Homo sapiens: one gene and its partners. The protein of the gene in region 1 interacts with the protein of each later gene in a pairwise test. Each region holds a gene or a part of one and is shown in the gene's direction. Other genes may lie near its edges.

Evidence for each region.
Region 2: the proteins of OIP5 (region 1) and APBB2 interact in binary tests that used the Homo sapiens proteins (3 or more experiments, as listed by UniProt).
Region 3: the proteins of OIP5 (region 1) and EIF4ENIF1 interact in binary tests that used the Homo sapiens proteins (3 or more experiments, as listed by UniProt).

The regions. Positions count from the first base shown.
Region 1 is NC_000015.10:41,315,565-41,322,599, reverse strand, and holds part of OIP5 (protein Mis18-beta), read left to right. Parts: intron 1-2,819; coding exon 2,820-2,942; intron 2,943-7,035. UniProt on the Homo sapiens protein: Required for recruitment of CENPA to centromeres and normal chromosome segregation during mitosis.
Region 2 is NC_000004.12:41,204,521-41,211,555, reverse strand, and holds part of APBB2 (amyloid beta precursor protein binding family B member 2), read left to right. Parts: intron 1-7,035. UniProt on the Homo sapiens protein: Plays a role in the maintenance of lens transparency, and may also play a role in muscle cell strength. Involved in hippocampal neurite branching and neuromuscular junction formation, as a result plays a role in spatial memory functioning.
Region 3 is NC_000022.11:31,451,821-31,458,855, reverse strand, and holds part of EIF4ENIF1 (eukaryotic translation initiation factor 4E transporter), read left to right. Parts: intron 1-205; coding exon 206-381; intron 382-2,868; coding exon 2,869-3,004; intron 3,005-3,540; coding exon 3,541-3,720; intron 3,721-4,479; coding exon 4,480-4,712; intron 4,713-7,035. UniProt on the Homo sapiens protein: EIF4E-binding protein that regulates translation and stability of mRNAs in processing bodies (P-bodies). Plays a key role in P-bodies to coordinate the storage of translationally inactive mRNAs in the cytoplasm and prevent their degradation.

The DNA.
Region 1 (7,035 bases):
AAACAAAGTAAGACCCCATTTCTGCCAAAAAAAAAATTAGTAGGGCATGGTAGCATGCACCTGTAGTCCCAGCTTTGGGAAGCTGAGGCAGGTAGATCAGTTGAGCCCAGGAATTCAAGGCTGCAGTGAGCTATGATTGTATCACTACGTTCTAACCTGGGCGACAGAGCAAGAACTTGTCTCAAAAAAAAACCAAAAAAAACTTCATACTATATATTAATACAATTTATTTTTCCTTTACCAAACCACTTTAAAATTGCTTTTAGCACATGCATGATGAAATATTTTCTTAAAGTGCTTTTCTTGTAAAACATTTATTTATTTTTTAAGACGGGGTATTACCATGTTGCCTAGGCTGCTCTCGAATTCCTGGGCTCAAGCTATCTGCCCACTTTGGCCTCTCATAGTGCTGGGATTACAGTAGGTGTGAACCACTGTGCCTGACCAAAATGTTTCTTTCTAATATTTAAATATGTCTTATATACCAGCAAATATGATGACTTGCTCAAGAATTGTAATGAGAGCTAAAATCAACATCTGACTCTTCATCAGTAATCTTTTCAGAGGATAAGGAAAACAAAATAGATGGCTTGCTAGGGTAATAGGATTCCCTTTTCTTTCTCTTTTAGTCTGCGCATTTTTTTCTTTTTTATTTATTTATTTATTTATTTATTTTTTTATTGATCATTCTTGGGTGTTTCTCGCAGAGGGGGATTTGGCAGGGTCATAGGACAATAGTGGAGGGAAGGTCAGCAGATAAACAAGTGAACAAAGGTCTCTGGTTTTCCTAGGCAGAGGACCCTGCGGCCTTCCGCAGTGTTTGTGTCCCTGGGTACTTGAGATTAGGGAGTGGTGATGACTCTTAAGGAGCATGCTGCCTTCAAGCATCTGTTTAACAAAGCACATCTTGCACCGCCCTTAATCCATTTAACCCTGAGTGGACACAGCACATGTTTCAGAGAGCACAGGATTGGGGGTAAGGTCATAGATCAACAGGATCCCAAGGCAGAAGAATTTTTCTTAGTACAGAACAAAATGAAAAGTCTCCCATGTCTACTTCTTTCTACACAGACACAGCAGCCATCCGATTTCTCAATCTTTTCCCCACCTTTCCCCCTTTTCTATTCCACAAAACTGCCATTGTCATCATGGCCCATTCTCAATGAGCTGTTGGGTACACCTCCCAGACAGGGTGGTGGCCGGGCAGAGGGGCTCCTCACTTCCCAGTAGGGGCGGCCGGGCAGAGGCGCCCATCACCTCGCGGACGGGGCGGCTGGCCGGGCGGGGGGCTGACCCCCCCACCTCCCTCCAGGACGGGACGGCTGGCCGGGCGGGGGGCTGGACCACCCCACCTCCCTCCCGGACGGGGCGGCTGGCCGGGCGGGGGGCTGACCCCCCCACCTCCCTCCTGGACGGGGCGGCTGGCTGGGCGGGGGGCTGACCCCCCACCTCCCTCCCCGACAGGGTGGCTGCCGGGCGGAGACGCTCCTCACTTCCCAGATGGGGTGGCTGCCGGGCGGAGGGGCTCCTCACTTCTCAGACAGGGAGGCTGCCGGGCGGAGGGTCTCCTCACTTCTCAAGATGGGGCAGCCGGGCAGAGACGCTCCTCACCTCCCAGGCAGGGTCGCGGCCGGGCAGAGGCGCTCCTCACATCCCAGACGGGGCGGCAGGGCAGAGGCGTTCCCCACATCTCAGACCATGGGAGGCCGGGCAGAGACGCTCCTCACTTCCTAGATGGGATGGCGGCCGGGAAGAGGCGCTCCTCACTTCCTAGATGGGATGGCGGGCGGGCAGAGACGCTCCTCACTTTCCAGACTGGGCAGCCAGGCAGAGGGGCTCCTCACATCCCAGACGATGGGTGGCCAGGCAGAGACGCTCCTCACTTCCCAGACGGGGTGGCGGCTGGGCAGAGGCTGTAATCTCGGCACTTTGGGAGGCCAAGGCAGGCGGCTGGGAGGTGGAGGTTGTAGCGAGCCAAGATCATGCCACTGCACTCCAGCCTGGGCACCATTGAGCACTGAGTGAACGAGACGAGACTCCGTCTGCAATCCCGGCACCCTGGGAGGCCGAGGCTGGTGGATCACTCGCGGTTAGGAGCTGGAGACCAGCCCAGCCAACACAGCGAAACCCCGTCTCCACCAAAAAAATATGAAAACCTGTCAAGTGTGGCGGCGCGTGCCTGCAATCGCAGGCACTCGGCAGGCTGAGGCAGGAGAATCAGGCAGGGAGGTTGCAGTGAGCCGAGATGGCAGCAGTACAGTCCAGCTTTGGCTTGGCATCAGAGGGAGACCGTGGAAAGAGAGGGAGAGGGAGACCGTGGGGAGAGGAGGGAGAGGGAGAGGGCGCATTTTTTTCATTAACTTTCTTTTTTAATATAAGCAAAAGACAAACCTTGATTTTAGTTCTATGAACAATTTGTTTAGTAAGGCCCCAGTCAACTTGATTATTTTTCAACAACTGTGAATTTATATAATGATAGCCATTTTACATGATTTGTAGTTTTAAATGTTTAAATGTTAATCAGATTAGTTAGCTCTTTTTGTGTTTATTAGGGGTAAATTACCTTTCTCTTCTGAAGCGACAATTATACATCCATGATTGCTTTGACCAGAATATACGAGGGTATCCGCAATCCAGCATGTAATTAAATTACAATCTGAGTTACCCTTTCTTGAATGTGACATTCTTTCCGTCTCATTCCTATTACAATGTAATTTTCACCCTGACTTAGGTGTTAGGAATGCTTCAGAGACTAGTTATTTTTTATTTCTTATATGATTTTTTATTCTTACCCATATTGTGTTTTTCCCCACCCCTAGTACTTACAACCTTTTATTCTGTGGTTCTTGTGGGATTCCCGTTGGTTTCCATCTGTATTCTACCCATGCTGCCCTGGCTGCCTTGAGAGGTCACTTCTGCCTTTCCAGTGACAAAATGGTGTGGTGAGTAGACTTAGATATTGATCATCAAATACATTTTATTTTATTTATTTTGAGACAAAGTCCATCAAATAAATTTTAAAAGGTTTTTCAGGAAAGACAAAGTAGGCTGAGCACAGTGGCTTATGCCTGTAATCCCAGCACTTTAGGAGGCTGAGGCGGTGGATCACTCGAGGTCAGGAGTTTGAGACCAGCCTGGCTAACATGGTGAAACCCATCTCTACGAAAAATACAAAAATTAGCCAGGTGTAGTGGTAGACGCCTGTAATCCCAGCTACTCAGGAGGCTGAGGCACGAGAATTGTTGGAACCTGGGAGGCAGAGGCTGCAGTGAGCTGAGATCACGCCACTGTGAGATCACGCCACTGCACTCCAGCCTGGGAGACATAGTGAGATTCTGTCCAAAGGAAAAAAAAAAAAAAGTAGCTGGGCATGCTAGTGCACACCTGTAATCCCAGCTACTTGGGAGGCTGCGGCAAGAGAATTGCTTCAACCTGAGAGGTGGAGGTTGCACAGTGAGCTGAGATTGCACCACTACACTCCAGCCTGGGTGACAGAACAAGACTCTGTCTCAAAAAAAAAAAAAAGAAAAAAGACAAAGTGTTTGTACCAAAAAGATGCTAAAGTCAGGCACTGTCTTTGACAAAAAGATAGCAGTGGGCCAGGTGTGATGGCTCGCGCCTGTAATGCCAATGCTTTGTGAGGCCAAGGTGGGAGGACTGCTTGAGGGCAGGAGTTCAAGACCTCCATGGGCAATATAGTGAGACTCCTGTTTTTTTTTTATACAAAATTTTAAAAAATTAGCTGGATGTGGCGGCGTGCCCCTATAGTCCCAGTTACTTGGGAGGCTGAGGTGGGAGGATCACCTGAGCCCAGGAGTTCAAGGTTACATTTTGCTGTGATCATACCACTGCATTCCACTTTGGGTGACAAAAAAAAAAAAAAGCAGTGGGACCAAAATATAATCTTATAACATTATGATTATCTTCCATGTCTTATCATACCATATCTTAAAAGTCATACCATGGGAAAATTCAGAGGGTATTCTTTCATTAAAGAAACTTGTTGCCAGATGTGGTGGTGTGTGCCTGTAATTCTAGCTACCCAGGAGGCTGAGGCAGGAGGATCACTTGAATCTTGGTGTTTGAGACCAGCCTAGGCAACATGGTGAAGCCTCCCATCTCAAACTGCTCCCTTATGGGCCGGGTGCAGTGGCTCACGCCTGTAATCCCAGCACTTTGGGAGGCTGAGGTCGGGGGTTCACCTGAGGTCAGGAGTTCGAGACCAGCTTGGCCAACATGGTGGAACCCCATCTCCATTTAAAATACGAAAATAAGCCAAGTGTGGTGGCACACGCCTGTGGTCGCAGCTACTCGGGAGGTGAGGCAGAAGAATTGCTTGAACCCAGGAGGCGGAGGTTGCAGTGAGCCAAGATCAAGCCACTGCACTTCAGCCTGGGTGACAGAGCTAGACTCTGTCTCAGAAAAAATAAAAATAAATAAAAGATAAAAAGAACATTCTAGAAGGCAAGCTTTTGCAAAATAATGTTGCAGTAGATACCTTTTGGGTTTGTGCCCAGCCTCTCTCTCCCTCTAATAGGTGGGGCCTTGTATATTTGTATCATGTGTGATTTGTATCATGTGTGATTCCCACTCCCAGGTACTGGATCAAGAATGAATACCTGGCCAGGCATGGTGGGTCATGCCTGTAATCTCAGCACTTTGGAAGGCTGAGTTGGAGGATTGTTTGAGCTTAGGAGTTTGAGACCAGCCTAGGCAACATAGCAAGACTCTGTCTCTACAAAAAATTTAAAATATTAACTGTGTATGGTGGTGTATGCCTGTAGTCCTAGCTACTCTGGAGGCTAAGGTGGGAGGATAGCTACAGCCCAGGAGTTCAAGGTTACAGTGAGCTATGATTGTGTCACTGTATTCTAGCATGGGGAGCAGAGCAAGACCCTGTCTCTTAAAAACCAAAAACGGTGCTGGGCGTGGTAGCTCACGCCTGTAACCCCAGTACTTTGGGAGGCCGAGGTGGGCAGATCATGAGGTCAGGAGATCGAGATCATCCTGGCCAACATGGGAAACCCCGTCTCTACTAAAAATACAAAAAAAATTAGCTGGGCATGGTGGCGCATGCCTGTAATCCTAGCTACTTGGGAGGCTGAGGCAGGAGAATCACTTGAACCGGGGAGTCAGAGGTTGCAGTGAACCAAGATCGCGCCACTGCACTCCAGCCTGGCAACAGAGCGAGACTCTGTCTCAAAAAAAAAAAAAAAAAGAAAAATGGATACCTGACCCAAACTAAGCCAACCAGTTTTCTACCTTAGGAATTTGAAACAAGGGCCCAGAAATACCAGTTACGTGTAGATAGTACTAGTGTTGAAGTTTGGAAGTGAAAGCTCTATGTATGGGATAGCTATTTCCCATGTGATGCATGTAGCTGCAGGGAAGTCTTCTCTGCAGTAAAACATGAAGCAGACACAGAGAAAAGTAAAAATAATGATCATGTAGCCTCATAGTGTCAGAAAAACTACCCTACTGGTTATCCTTTCTCATGAATTACATTGGCTATTTCATTATTTTCCTAATAAATTGCACTTTTAACTTAAGCTTTTTTACTTATTACAAGAAACTGAAACATCCTTAGAAGTCTTTCCTTGACCATTAAAAAACAAAAACAAGCATTGACAACCTAGTTTATGTAGGCATTATGCTTATATCACTGAGTTCTTAATATAGTTTAAGAAAACTAGGGCTCAAAGAGGTGGAAGAGCTGAGATTTGAGCATGTCTTAACTCAAAAGCTTATTTTCCTTTCATAAAACTAAAAGGTTTCCTTTTTCTCATGTCTTTTTTTTTTTTTTTTTTTTTGAGATGGAGTCTTGCTGTGGCGCCCAGGCTGGAGTGCAGTGACGTGATCTTGGTTCACTGTAAGCTTCACCCCCTGGGTTCACACCATTCTCCTGCCTCAGCCTCCCAAGTAGCTGGAACTACAGGCGCCCACCACCACGCTTGGCTAATTTTTTGTATTTTTAGTAGAGACGGGGTTTCACTGTGTTAGCCAGGATGGTCTCGATCTCCTTGACCTCGTGATCCGCCCGCCTTGGCCTCCTAAGGTGCTGGGATTACAGGCATGAGCCACCGCGCCCGGCCGCTTTTTCTCATTTCTTATGCTTAGATAGATGTTTTTAGCTGAGTTATGGTTGACTAAACAATAAAACTTATCAGCCAGTCCTTTACCATGGGTTGCTCACTGTGCATTAGGTATACCATTTGTTCTTCATTGCAAATTTCCAACACAAAATATATACCTGAGATCCTGAGATGGATTGATCATTCTCTTTTTTTAAAGACGGAGTCTCACTCTGTCACCCAGGCTGGAAGTGCAATGGCATGATCTCAGCTCACTGCAACCTGCACCTCCTGGGTTCAAGTGATTCTCCTGCCTGGGCTTCCCAAAATGTTAAGATTACAGGCATTAATCACCATGCCCAGCCTCAATTTTTAGATTCTTTTTTTTTTTCTTTGAGACGGAGTCTTGCTCTTTCGCCCAGGCTGGAGCTGGAGTGCAGTGGCACCATCTCGGCTCACTGCAAGCTCCGCCTCCCAGGTTCACGCCATTGTCCTGCCTCAGCCTCCCGAGTAGCTGGGACTACAGGCGCCCGCCACCATGTCTGGCTAATTTTTTTGTATTTTTAGTAGAGACGGGGTTTTACCGTGTTAGCCAGCATGGTCTTGATCTCCTGCCTTGGCCACCTAAAGTGCTGGGATTACAGGTGTGAGCCACTGCGCCACCAATTTCTAGATTCTTAAGCAATTTCTATTTAGAATTAACTTTAAAGTGGGAAAAAAAACTGTAAATGTGTGCTGTTAGTAATCCCACATCTTTTTTAGAAATCAGTACAAAAGTAAATGTTCTAGAGAAGCAATAATTGCATTTTTGTTAGGGCAGTAAGCTTTTAGTAACATATTTTTAACATAAATTTGAAAAGCATTATGGGATTTTGGTTAATTTCTTAATCTTTAAAATGAGTTGGATAAAAGGTCAGGACATTCTTTTTGATTAAGTAGAAACTTTGGCCTTTTCCTCTTGGAT
Region 2 (7,035 bases), on another chromosome or scaffold:
AGCCAAGATCGCGCCACTGCACTCCAGCCTGGGCAAAAGGGTGAGACTCCGTCTCAAAATAAATACATAAATAAAATAAATAAATAAGTAAATAAATAACAAAACAAAACTGGACAATACCCTTGTGATATAACACCTTAAGTTTTCCGGGGGCGGGGGAGGGGAGCAGGTGGGACAGACTTTTAGGAAAATATTGTAATAAGTTATTACTGGTTATGGGGGGAATACTTATTTTCCTACATGGGGTTAGGAAACCAGCATTTGTTCAGTGCCTAGTATTATTATTATTATTATTATTTTTGAGACAGAGTTTCAGTCTGTCACCCAGGCTGGAGTGTAGTGGCGCGATCTTGGCTCACTGTAACCTCCACCTCCCAGGTTCAAGTAATTCTCCTGCCTCAGCCTCCTGAGTAGCTGGGATTCCAGGTGCCCGCCACCACGCCTGGCTAATTTTTGTAATTTTAGTAGAAATGGGGTTTCACCATGTTGGCCAGGCTGGTCTCCAAGTCCTGACCTCAGGAGGTCCACCAGTCTCGGTCTCCCAAAGTGCTGGGATTACAGGCGTGAGCCATCACGCCTGGTCTGTTCAGTGCTTTTTATGTGTCCTATTATCCTATTAAGGTTTTGTATATATCATCTTATGCTGTAAGCATCTATGCATAAATGTCAGCTGTCTAAGAAAACCCCTCTGAAAAGGTAGATGCTCGTGATTTCACAGCAATAGAGCTTTAAACTTTTATCTTATATGAAAATATCTTTAATTGATTCCATTATTATTCAGTAAGCATTCTCTTTTAAAGCATCTTTGATTTGTTATTTAGAATTAAATTTGATTGGAACTGCATATCTTCAGAATGATTTGAATGTTTTCAAGAAGGTTCTATCCAGATTTTAAAACTGTTTTGTGTTCATTTATTTTCAATAATGTTGCACTACCAACAAATGAAATTAGATGTCAGAAGATAAACCCAGATTAGCCATTTTGATTTTAATGTGTTATTAGTGCATATTCTGCATGCTGATATGTGTTGACGGCATTTCTCTCAGCCGAAATGGTTTGTCAGAGGCAGAGTAACAGACTCTCCATAATAAAGGGTCTGGGGGGATTTGGAGGAAAGACTACTAACCAGGGACCCCAAAGACTTGCCTTTGGGGCTGGCTTGTCCCTTACTTCAATTCACTGTGTTACCTGGAAAAAGTCAGTTATGTCTCTGGGCCTGTTTTCCCATCTGTAAAATGAGAGAGCTGCAGTCACCCTCTGGTTGTCTATCGGGTCCTTCTTGTCCCAGTCTAGAGATCTGTGATGCAGCCATTCGAGGAGAGAGGTCTTCGTTTAAGAGCAGGGGTCCCCAGCCCCCTGCTTCGGACCTGAACTGGTCAGTGGCCTATTAGGAACCGGGCCATAGAGCAGGAGGTGAGCGGCGGGCAAGTGACCTTTACCACCTGAGCTCCACCTCTGTCAGATCAGTGGTGGCATTTGATTCTCACAGGACTGTGAACCCTGTTGTGAACTGCACATGTGTGGGATCTTGGTTGTGCACTCCCTATGAGAATCTACTGCTTGTTGATCTGAGTTGGAACAGTTTCATCCCAATCCCCAACCCCATCCGTGGAAAAATTGTCTTCCATGAACGCTGTCTGGAGACCACTGGTTTAGAGCATTATTTGGAGGTGATTTTGTGTTTCCCTGTCTGGTTTGTCACTGCTTTGTCCAATGCCCTTCTTTTTTTGCCCAATTCCTACTTCCCTTATAGTTTTCATTTGTTATAAAATGGTTGTCATAAAATTAACTTTATGGCCCTGCCAGTCTAGTTAGCAGATAAGGTAATGATTAGATTTGGGTAAAGTGTATTCGACATTTGAAACTACTTCATAGCATTTTCTGCGGGGAGACTTTCTGCTCTTGAGCACACAGATAGTCTGAGAAAGAAACCTCTACCTAGGCTGCAGGGGAGGGGGTCCTGTGCTTTGCTTCCCAGGCCCACCCTTGTGAAATTTTGGCAAGCCTTTCCTGTGTCCCAGCCTTTGTCTCCTCGCCTCGATGAGAAATGCAGCCCTTGGTCTCTGGAATACGACTTTCACTCTCATTTGACGTTAGCCCTGTCACTGTGTTGGACAGATGCCTGTGATTGGCTGCTGCAGTAGCAGGAGTGGTGGCTGGTGAAATGTGTCTACTCAGTGTCATTAGCAGGATCATGAGCTTTTTTTTCTTTTTTCTTGGCAAGCTGCGATGGGGCAGAGAGCAAAGGAAACCAATCCCATTTGGTGTTTTTAGTGCATTTTGCTTTCAAGAGGCTCACAAAACTCAGCCTCATTAACCTTTAAGTGAGTCAGTGAGGAGTTGTTATCCCATTGAAATAATTTTTAATAAAGGGAGAGTGACTCTAGTTCCTCTAATAACCAGGCTCCAGGGTTCCTGGACCCCTGTTAGGAGTGGGTCATTAACTCCAGACATTAGATGAGAGCTGGGAGAGAGGAAGGGCATAGAGGGTGGAAGGTCAAGTCACACAACTGGGCAGGAAGTAAGAAGCTTGATCAGTTTAAAGGTATTAGAGCTCTTTGTGTGTAGAGTTACAGGAGATATTCCCTTTCTATATAATTTATTTCCATGGTGTTTGAATCTTATCTTGTTTTCTGTAATGGACGTATATTTATTTTATAATCAGAGAAAAATCCCAATATATAATTTATTGATATATAAAATGTACAGATTCACATGGACAAATACGAGAAGAGAACATGGAAAGAAATGAATGGTATAGAAAAGGATGGATTAAAGCTTTTCTTTGTTGTTGGTTAATGACTTGACAGTGGTTATAAACAAAGTTTACCAGTTCTACCCTCTCTTTTCCTCTTGTGGAAATCTTGCAAACTTTGTTTGCTAGGTAATAACTGAAGTTCCCGAAGTGTAACTCATTGGCAAGTATGCTTCAGGAATGCTTAGAGTGGGAGGAAGAGTGTCGTTTTTTTTAAGTTGATGAAAAAGAATGCAGAAACCGGGAGCAGTGGCTCATGCCTGTAATCCTAGCACTTTCGGAGGCCAAGGCAGGTGGCTCACTTGAGGTCGGGAGTTTGAGACCAGCCTGGCCAACATGGTGAAACCCCGTCTCTGCTAAAAATACAAAAATTAGCCGGGCATGGTGGCACACGCCTGTAATTTCAGCTACTCAGGAGGCTGAGGCAGGAGAATCGCTTGAACCCAGGAGGTGGAGGTTGCTGTGAGCTGAGACCGCGCCACTGCACTCCAGCCTGGGTGAAAGGGCGAGACTCTGTCTCAAAAAAAAGAATGCAGAATATTGGAATCGAGGTAGAAGGAAAAACGTGTGTTTAAGAGGGTGAGATAGATTGGAGAGACTTTGCGGAATTCCAGAGGGTAAAGGGAAATGCCATTGTTGAAGAAGGAAGGCCTGGCATTACTGGAGGTATGGGATGTGTCCCTGTCGTGTAAGTCAGAGCTCAGTTTCCACACAATATAAAAGTAAATGAGTATCTCCTATATGCAGAGCATAATGTTAGCCCCACAGGTCATTTATTGTTGGTTAGTGGTTTTCACTGTTCTTATCACAATGATGATAATGATGTAGTGAATATGTCATAATTGTTCAAATAAGAAGATATGTCCTTTTCTCTGATACTATGCCTTTCTCATTTTTGGGTAAGATTCTTTTATGATTTGATAGGAATATTTTTATCTAGCCGCTGAATGGTCCATGAAATTGGTAAGTCTGGGAATCTGGGCCTGAGATGCAGGGAGGCCTGCCCTTGGGATTGAGTTGAGTCATGGAGGCCAGGCCAACATGTGGAGTTTGTGGGTCAGCTGATGGGGCCCCTGGGCTTTCCAGGAATATAGAGTCACCCAAGGTCCTAGGAACTGTGAATGAGCTAATTTTGAAAGTGCCCTAGGAGCCAGTGACTATTTTTGAATTATAGCTTGAGAATGACAAGGAAAGCACCAAGATGAAAGATGAGGGTGTAAGGGAACAGAATGGGCAAGTGGTTGAAGTGTGAATTTCAGCAGGTGAACCTCAAGATGTATCTTGACATTTGATTCTTTGCATGCAGGCCTCTTTCTGGCAAAACAACACTCTTTAGCAATTCTTAGTTAGTGATTCTAGGAAATGGTGATGGGTGAAAGCCATAGAACCTAGAATTGTGTAATAGCCAGCTTGGCCCAGACCTCTGCAGTATCATTCCCTCCAGGGTGAGCCTTGAATTGCTGGAGGAAGCTTCAGAATGATTTGCTCATGGAATTGCTGTTATTCACCTTTAGTTTTGGTTGCTATTGTGGGGTGAAGAAGGAGTGTCAAAACAATAACAACAAATTATTTCCTTTTTTTTTTTTTTTTTTTTTTTTTTTGAGACGGAGTCTCACTTGGTCGCCCAGGCTGGAATGCAGTGGCTTAATCTCGGCTCACTGCAACCTCCACCTTCCAGGTTCAAGCAGTTTTCCTGCCTCAGCTACCCAAGTAGTTGGAACTACAGGTGCCCGCCACTGTATCCGGCTAATTTTTGTATTTTTAGTAGAGGCTGGGGTTTCACCACTTTGGCCAAGCAGGTCTCGAACTCCTGACCTCAAGTGATCTGCCCGCCTCAGCCTCTCAAAGTGCTGGGATTACAGGTATGGGTCCTCTCCCTGGCAGCATCCTGCTTGCTCTTTGGTGCTGGCTCTGTTCTTACCTTCTGATCTTCCTTCTGTTTCTCAGGTAGACTTCTGTCCTGGGCAAGAGTCGACCTGCCACATTGAGTATCACAATTTGCTAGGTGGTATTGTTTGTCAGTGGAAGTGAATAAATCAGAATTTCCTTAGCATGAGTTAGGTTTCTTGAGTTGTTTCATTCCTGGGGGAACTAATACCGTTAAAATTTCCTTGACATTTCAAGAAATGATCATATACCACATTGCAAATTTTGAACACAGCAGAGGCATGATTTGGGTGTAGAGACACCTTGGGAAGCATTGATTCAGACTCAGATTCTTCAGATTATCTGATCAGAACCTCTTGTCCTCTCCAAGAACCAAGGTCTGTGTATACCTTTTCCAGGACACTGGTGAAGAGAGACATTCATTTGGTGACATCCAGAAACCTCGGCTTCATTTGTTCCTTCCTTTGTTCAGCAAATGCTTATTGAGTACATAGTTTGTGCCTGGCACTGTGCTAAGTTCAGGAGGACAGAGAGGAATGTACCAGAACATTGGTTATAGGGTGCTGCAGTAGAGGCATGTGTGTGATGGGAGTGGAGGGGAAGGAAGGCTGTCCTAATCCTGCGAGAGTGGCAAGAGCTGTGGCTAGTGACTCCTCATGTAAAATTCCCACTACAGCAAACCCTTCAGCTGCTTCCTTTGTCATCTTTCCTTAACTCAATTTTATTCCTGCCTACCACCCAGGATTTGCTACTCCTTTTGTAAGGGAACTCGGGATTTGGCCTTTCAAATCTCTGTGGCAGTAGTTCTTAAGCAGGACAGTTTTGCTCACTGGGGAACATTTGGCAGTGACATTTTGGTCATGGTGACTGTGGAGGGATAACTACTGGCATCTAGTAGGAAGAGGCTAAGAATGCTACTAAATATCCTACAACATGTGCAAGGATAGCCCTAGAAGGAGGCAGCAGGGGTTTAGTGGTCAAGTCCCAGTGCTGCTCTGCAATTTAATAGCCATATGACAAAGGGCAACAGAATTGTACTTTGACAACAGAATTACACAGTGCTCAGTTTGCTCATCTGCAAATAGGAATACTAATTGTGCTTATATAATATGATTGTTGTGAAGATTTCATCAGTGAATGTATAAGGGCAGAGAACAATACTTGATGTGAGATAAGACCTTACTTAACGAGTATTTTTATTTTTAGTTTTAAACAAAAACTTTACCTTTTGACTCTAAAGAGCTTGAGTTTAGAGTATCCAGGGCAGTTGAGCTTGTAGCCCTACCTGTAAGTATGCTTTGGTGTAGGAAATGGCCATAGTTTTTGTGTTTTTCTAGTTCCTTTTTGTCCGTTGGCTTTATTTCCCATTGTCTCATCTCTTGAGATTTTTAATAGCTTTGCCTTTCATCCCTTTTTTCCCAGGGACCCAAATTTATGCCCTTAATGAGCTTTTCCCTAGAGGGCTGAGAATTATATTTATGATTTTCCTTAGCTCTGTCTATTTTGGGAATGGTGAGAAAATGGGAAGCGGGTCAGGGGAGATGTTGCATTACTTCCTGATTGCCATAGCTCCCTTCTCTGTAAAATCCCGTGAAGGATTGAGAGGCAGGTGGTAGTGCTTGCTTAGTAACTCTTCCCTTTACACCCACCAGCTCCACTCCCAAGTTGGGTGCCTACTACTTCCAAAATACCCCGTAATTGGGTCACAACATTATCTGCCTGCTTGGAATCATATTTAAAAATCAAAGCAAAGATGCAGACTATGTCAGCAGGATTTGAAATGTTTCCATCCTCTGCTTTGAGGCTTTGCAGAATTATTCTGAAAACAAAAGAAGGTAAACTTGTTATCCCAATGAGGTGGCAGTTTCTATGTGGCCTAGAATTATGCCTAATTTTTGCTTGTAAAAGGGCTCAAACCATGATCCTTTCTGACTTTCCACAGGGATGTGAGCTTTTGTGGACATCACTCAACAGATCAGATTTACTGTTGAATTTTCATAACATAATTGACTTGGAAAGCATTTCATTCAGTGTTTTGAATGGTGACTAGAGAGAAATTAAGAAGCTCAGTTGTTATATCTTTCGAATTCCTTTCCCATGACACAGTCATCTCTCCCCTGAATGAGAGCAGTGGCCTCCTGGCTTATCCAGCTCTGTTCACTCAGTTTGGCTTCCCAAGTGCTGGGCACTGTTCCAGATGCCACACGTGGACACTGACCAGGATGGCCACTGCCTCTACCTGCTCGGAGCTCTGGGTCTATAGAGAAAGGCTGACAGCTAAGGAATGAATGACGGTACTATGTGATACGTATTACTGGGAGAAATACTCAGTGCTTCCCAGACGAGCACTTATCCTGCTTGGGTGTGGGGAGTGTGTGGGGCAAAGCTTCCA
Region 3 (7,035 bases), on another chromosome or scaffold:
TATTCTAGCTTTATTAAGGCTTTTTTCCTTTTCTGCCTCCCGTAGAAGGGGGACTGTTTTATTCTTGCAAGTACAGTACCTGCACGAGAAGTCTGCTTTTTAAGTCATGTGTGGCTCTTCTACATGTATACTGATGGCTGAAGCCACAGAGGGACACTGGAGTGATTTACTTATCAGACGGTTTTTGTCCTGGTTTTGCTTTCAGGTATAGTAGAGTGCAATGGAGGAGTGGCCGAAGAGGATGAAGTGGAGGTCATCCTTGCACAGGAGCCTGCGGCTGATCAGGAAGTGCCAAGGGATGCTGTCTTGCCTGAGCAGTCCCCAGGAGACTTTGACTTTAATGAGTTCTTTAACCTTGATAAGGTGCCATGCTTGGCTTCGGTGAGTGTAGCAGCACACTTAAAAAATGTGTGGTTAAATTTGACCTGAGTATTTAAGACATCGGTTTGAAAGTGTTGTTTTGCTAGATGCTTTTGGGGTTTTTGGCTTTTATTCTTACATATTTAAATTTTTGTTGGCTTTGTTTTGAGAGGCTTAATGGATAATATGAGATTTTTGTACCAGTTAACTCTTTTTTAAGCTGGTGGTGTTAGACTAAAAATTCTTTTTTTGTTGTTTTTTTTTTTTTGAGTTGGAATCTTACTCTGTCACCCAGGCTGAAGTGCAGTGGCACGATCTTGGCTCATTGCAACCTCCGTCTCCTGGGTTCAAGCGATTCTTCTGCCTCAGCCTCCTGAGTAGTTGGGATCACAGGTGTGTGCCACCATGCCCAGCTAATTTTTGTATTTTTAGTAGAGATGGGGTTTCACTATGTTGGCCAGACGGGTCTTGAACTCCTGACCTTGTGATCCTCCTGTCTTGGTCTCCCAAAGTGCTGGGATTACAGGCGTGAGCCACCGCACCTGGCTTTTTAAAGTTATTTTTAGAATTCCTGTTTATCACTAAGATGCTTATATTTTGGATACACTCCCCAATTTTTCACAGTGATGTATCATGCTTATCTTATATTTTAATTAATACAAAATTAGTGCACTTAAAAGTCAGCATTATTTAAGGTATGAGCATCTACAGGTGGAATGTGATTGAAATTGTCTAGATAATTCCTCTGAAAATAGAAATTCTGGAAACAATAATTAGGGTCTTGAATTAAAATCCCTTCAAAAGAAGTATATTGTGGCTTAATTTGGGTATGGATTATGAAAACATTCTTCCAGATAAGAACAAAGAATAAATCTAAGCTTCCCCTGCTTAACTTTGGAAACTGTGGGTTCCAGATTTCAAATAAAACAGTCACTAATTCTGTCATCCATGTACCAGTTTTTGAAAAAGCATGTTTTCTGTTTATCAGTGGGATTGACGTGAAAGTATATGACTTATTTTCAAGGATATGTCTGATTTTTGGATAGATGTTTGCTCTATCTTGTCTTTTCTAAATATTGATAAGAATACTGCAAAAAATCAATTTGGATATTTGACTGAATTTATGGTATGATTTGAATTGAAAAATTTTTTAAATGCTTAAATCTAGTTTTTAAGAAAGATTGGCACTATTTCATAATTTCTACCAAAGCAATTTATTGTTCATAGTGTGTTATTTAATTGTCCTTATTAAATGTAAACTATGGAGGTTGGATTTGGAAACAGAAAACACCTGAAAACTCTCTATTAATCTCAAACAGAAATTAGAGATCAGTTGAAATTTCATCTTCCACAATCATACTTTTTCTAAACTTTGACTTGGAATTACAGTCTTTATGAGCTCTGCTTTTTTAGCCTTTGGCTTCTGAAACTCTCAAGATTGAATTTCATAATGTTCATTACAACCTTGAAACCACTAAGTTTGAAGCAATGGTTTTCTTTCATCAGTTCCCCATACTTGATATTTAGTTGAAGGTCACTCATCAGCTTGTCAGTGGAATGCTGTGGCATTGACACTGTTCTCTGAGAACATTTGGTAGTACGTGGATTTACTCCTGAGGCAAAGGATAGAAACCCAAAAACCTTTTTGTAGCATAGAGGCTTTGCTTTATATTCTTAGAAAGTAGTGGTGGTTCATGCCTGTAATCCCAGCACTTTGGGAGGCCAAGGCAGGTGGATCATTTGAGGTCAGAAGTTCGAGACAAGCCTGGCCAACATGGTAAAAACCCATCTCTACTAAAAATAAAATTAAAAATAGCCAGGCATATGGTGGCGTATGCCTGTAGTCCCAGCTACTCGAGAGCCTGAGGCATAAGAATCACTTGAACCTGGGAGGCAGAGGTTGCAGTGAGCCAAGATTGCACCCCTGCACTTCAGCCTGGGCAACAGAGCGAGACTGTCTTAAAAAAATAGTAGACCGGGTGTGGTGGCTCATGCTTGTAATCCCAGCACTTTGGGAGGCCAAGGCGGGCGGATCACAAGGTCAGGAGATCGAGACCATCCTGGCTAACACGGTAAAACCCCGTCTCTACTAAAAATACAAAAAATTAGCCGGGCGTGGTGGCAGGCGCCTGTAGTCCCAGCTACTCAGGAGGCTGAGGCAGGAGAATGGTGTGAACCCGGGAGGCGGAGCTTGCAGTGAGCCGAGATCGTGCCACTGCACTCCAGCCTGGGTGACAGAGCGAGACTCTGTCTCAAAAAAAAAAAAAAAAAAGTAATAAAAAATAAAAAAGGAAAGTAAGTAGATGGTTATACTCAAGTTTGGGTTATTCAGAAATTACCCAGGATGGAGGAAGAAAAAGGTGTTCAAATTCCTAGGTTCTGAGAGTATTTATCTTCAGGTCACGAGCATGAAAGGAAGTTTCAAAGTAAGTGACCCTTTCATAAGATTTAAACCTTCTTGTCCTTTTTCATCTAGAAACTATTAGTTTTTATTGTCTTTTTCTTCAGATGATAGAAGATGTTTTGGGAGAAGGGTCAGTCTCTGCCAGTCGGTTCAGTAGGTGGTTCTCTAACCCGAGCAGATCAGGAAGCCGATCCAGCAGTCTTGGGTCAACACCACATGAAGAGCTAGAGAGACTTGCAGGTAAAATGGCTTCAGATTCTGCCCTTGAAGGTAAACCTGGGTTTTTCCCTGATATGGTTCATTTTATCTTCATTAGTCAGGAGTCAATTAGGGTCAAAGGGTCTCTGGACAACTGAAAAGCCTTCAATTTGTGTCCTTTTAATATTGTTGAAGGGGCCGGGTGCAGTGGCTCACGCCTGTAATCCCAGCACTTTGGGAGGCCAAGGCAGGCAGATCACAAGGTTAGGAGTTTGAGACCAGCCTGGCCAACATGGTGAAACCCCCATCTCTACTAAAAATACAAAAATCAGCCAGGCGTGGTGGCGGGCATCTGTAGTCCCAGCTACTCAGGAGGCTGAGGCAGGAGAATCGCTTGAAACTGGCAGGCGGAGGTTGCAGTGAGCCGAGATTGCGCCACTGCACTCCAGCCTGGGCGAAAAAGCGAAACTCCATCTCAAAGAAAAAAAAAAAAAAAAAGAAAGAAAGAAAAATACTGTCGAAGGCATGTTTCTTTACTGGAACAGATTAATTTTGAGTATGTTTATTTGCAATATCAGGTCTGGAGCAAGCCATCCTCTCTCCTGGACAGAACTCGGGGAATTACTTTGCTCCTATACCATTGGAAGACCATGCTGAAAATAAAGTGGATATTTTAGAAATGCTACAGAAAGCCAAAGTGGATTTGAAACCTCTTCTTTCCAGCCTTTCTGCAAATAAAGAAAAACTTAAAGAAAGCTGTAAGTGTTTATGAATATCTGTTTTAGATATCTGAAAAGGTCTAGATGTTCAGTCTTCAGGCAGTTGGGTCTAACATAACCTCTGTTTCATAAAAAGTCAAATATATATTGGGTTTTTGTTTAATGTTCTTTTTTAAAAACTCATTTCATCAAACAATACCACCTCTTTGAGAATCTCACAGTGGGTCATGAGCCCTATGAGAACTTTTCCTGTAAGTTCTTACCTAGGGTCTGGTTGTAATAATCCAGTGAATGTTGAAAACAAACTCCAGTGAATGTTTTATTCCTCCAGAGCATAACTTACCATTTCCTCACAAATCTGCCCTAGTCTTCCATGTTCTTGCTTAGGCTATAAATTCTCAACATAAAAACTTAGTGATATAATGACCACGGTGCAGGCAGCAATCTTGGCAATGTTGGGCTATCTGGGATTCTTGTCCCAGGTAACAAGTCTCCCAGAAGACTCATATCCTTCTGCAGGATGCACAGCAGGAGCTTGTCAAGTTTTAAAGAATAGCACTTCATAGTTGTGGTCCCCCAGTTTCTAGCATCTAAACATTTTAGGTTTAGTTTATGCCATCTCTTAGTACACAATTTGATTTTAAGTGTTATTAGTTTATTTTTGGTGTCAGTCTTTTCTGACAGTCTCATCTCAATTTTGAAATAAATTATTTTCATCTTATCTGTCATACTAGCCAAAGAGAATTCCTACCAGATATCTCTTTGCTTGATTTAACCTGGACGTTCTCAACTTCTCAGCACATTCAGGGGTTGTGCTTTCAGTGGAGGAGGTAGAAGCAGGTCTGAAGGGCTTGAAGGTTGACCAGCAAGTGAAGAATTCAACTCCCTTCATGGCAGAACACCTAGAAGAGACCTTGAGTGCCGTAACCAACAATCGACAACTGAAGAAAGACGGAGACATGACTGCGTTCAACAAGCTAGTGAGCACAATGAAGGCAAGTGGGACTTTGCCTTCTCAGCCCAAAGTCAGCGTAAGTATCTGACACAAACCCCCCACCCTTTTCTCCTTTTTTTTTCTTCTTTTTCCCACCACAATAAAAGGATTTTTAAAAAGGTATTCTGAGTAAGTTGGAAATTCTTTAGTAGTCATTTGGTCCTTGATGCTTTTGTGTGTTCCTTAATTATTGATATGCTATTTGTTACTGGAAAAAGCAGGCTTGTGGTTAATTTATATGTATTGTGGGTGACAGTATAAAGATTAAAAGATTCAGTCTTAATGGTAATGCCTGTATAACTTTAAGTCACTGCTAAAATGAGGTATAAAACTATCTTTTTGGATGAACTCCAGAGACAATTTTCTTGTTATTCAGCTACTTAAGTTCATATTCTTTACCATATTTGTATAGTAAAATCTTTATTCACATCTTCTAATTATTCCCAGATACCAGGGATTACCTGCATTCTTGCAGTCATACAAATCATTTGTAAAGTATCTAAGATGGGGCTGAGCACAGTGGCTCACGCGTGTAATCCCAGCACTTTGGGAGGCTGAGGCAGGCAGATCACCTGAAGTCAGGAGTTTGAGACCAGCCTGGCCAACATGGTGAAACGCCATCTCTACTAAAAATAAAAATTAGCCAGGCGTGGGGGCATGCGCCTGTAATCTCAGCTACTTGGGAGGCCAAGACAAGAGAACTGCTTGAACCTGGGAAATGAAAGTTGCAGTGAGCCGAGGTCACGCCACTGCACTCCAGGCTGGGCAACAGAGTGAGACTGTCTCCAAAAAAAAAAAAAAAAAGTAAGATGGGTTTGTCAGGATAATTACATTCTGTCAATTTACTAATGGAAAAAGTTGTGGCTCCAAGTTAAAAACAAAACTTGTAGGCATGAAGTTAGGTTACAAGGTGACACAACTGCATATCACCTTGTAAATGCAAATGTTTATAATATACTGGTTCTTTGTCCTAACAATTTTGAGAGGGTAGTTCTTACCCATAGCCTATGTGTTAATATCACTATCTCTTGATACAAACTAATGTGGAAGCAGGGTAGATATGAATAATAAAAACATAAACATGGACTTATTCTAGTTGCTAAGTTATAGCAAATTTACCAAATTGAGTTTTCTCTCTTTTTTTCCTGTTCCCTGCTTGCCTGGGAACTTACCAGTTAGCCAAGATGCAAGTAGCAATAGCTGTTTGAATCATTATGTCTTATACCAAAAGAAAGCAACTGACTTTTAGCATTCCTTATCTGACCAATAGGACAGACAGAGGTTCCATTATTCCTTAGTGCCAGGACTGACCTACACTTGAAAGGAGGCACCTCAGATAGGTAGACTGACTTCTTTGTATCTGACCACACCATACCAGTTGCAGGAGAATGTCCCTGTAAAACTGCTTTAGAGTTACTTTTATACAAAGAATTATTAGATACAAATGCTTTCAAATGAAGATCAGACTGAAAGATGGTAGACTATCCTATTTTCCTTTCTCGTTACATTTGTGTCTTGGTGATTGGGTGCTGACTGCAATGGTGTGGTTCATATCTTATAATTAGCTTCTTTCTTTTGGTGTGAGCAACTAAAAATATGGAAGGGGGCATTCAGCAGTTTACCTGATGTTTTTCCACATTTTATTGCAGATATGATTCTAGGATTTGATATTAACACAATTTACTCGAGTTGTAAGGGCAGTTGGTTTGATGTTGGGGTTTTAGCACTCAGAAGTGTATCTGGTTTTAGCTGAGCAAATGAGCCTCAAACACCTGCCAAACGGATGGATGACACATTCAAGTGGCTAGGCAAAGGCTAAGACAAACTCAGCTAGCAGGAAAGAATACAACAAGGAAAGTAATGGAGTAAGAATAGCAGGTGTTATCTCAAAATATTGCTCAATTTGCATGTTGTTAAGTCATGGTTTACTTTTTGAATTCGGTGTCTTTAATTACTACTGCTGTGTATGTTTTGTATACTATTTCTGATCTGCCTCCATCCATTTAGGTTGTCATATTGGTTCATCCAAAAATAATACATGCTGGTTCAATCTAAATTCTGTTTTAAATTATAGATTCTATCCTCCAAGTATAATAAGCCATGCAGTATAAAGTTGTCTATTTGTTTTTATTAGATGGAAGTAAATGACTCTTAAAGAGATTACTTATAAAATCATCTGCCTTTAGTCCCAGTTCCAAAATCAACAATAAAATACTTGGGTATTCTTGAGCTATTTGTCATGCCTAGACACTGCTTTGGACTTTGACAGCTCCATCTAGTGGAAGGGAAACTACACCAGAGAAAGCACTTCACACAGAGCTAAATGGGCATAGGGATGTCCTGAAATGCAGGAGGGGACT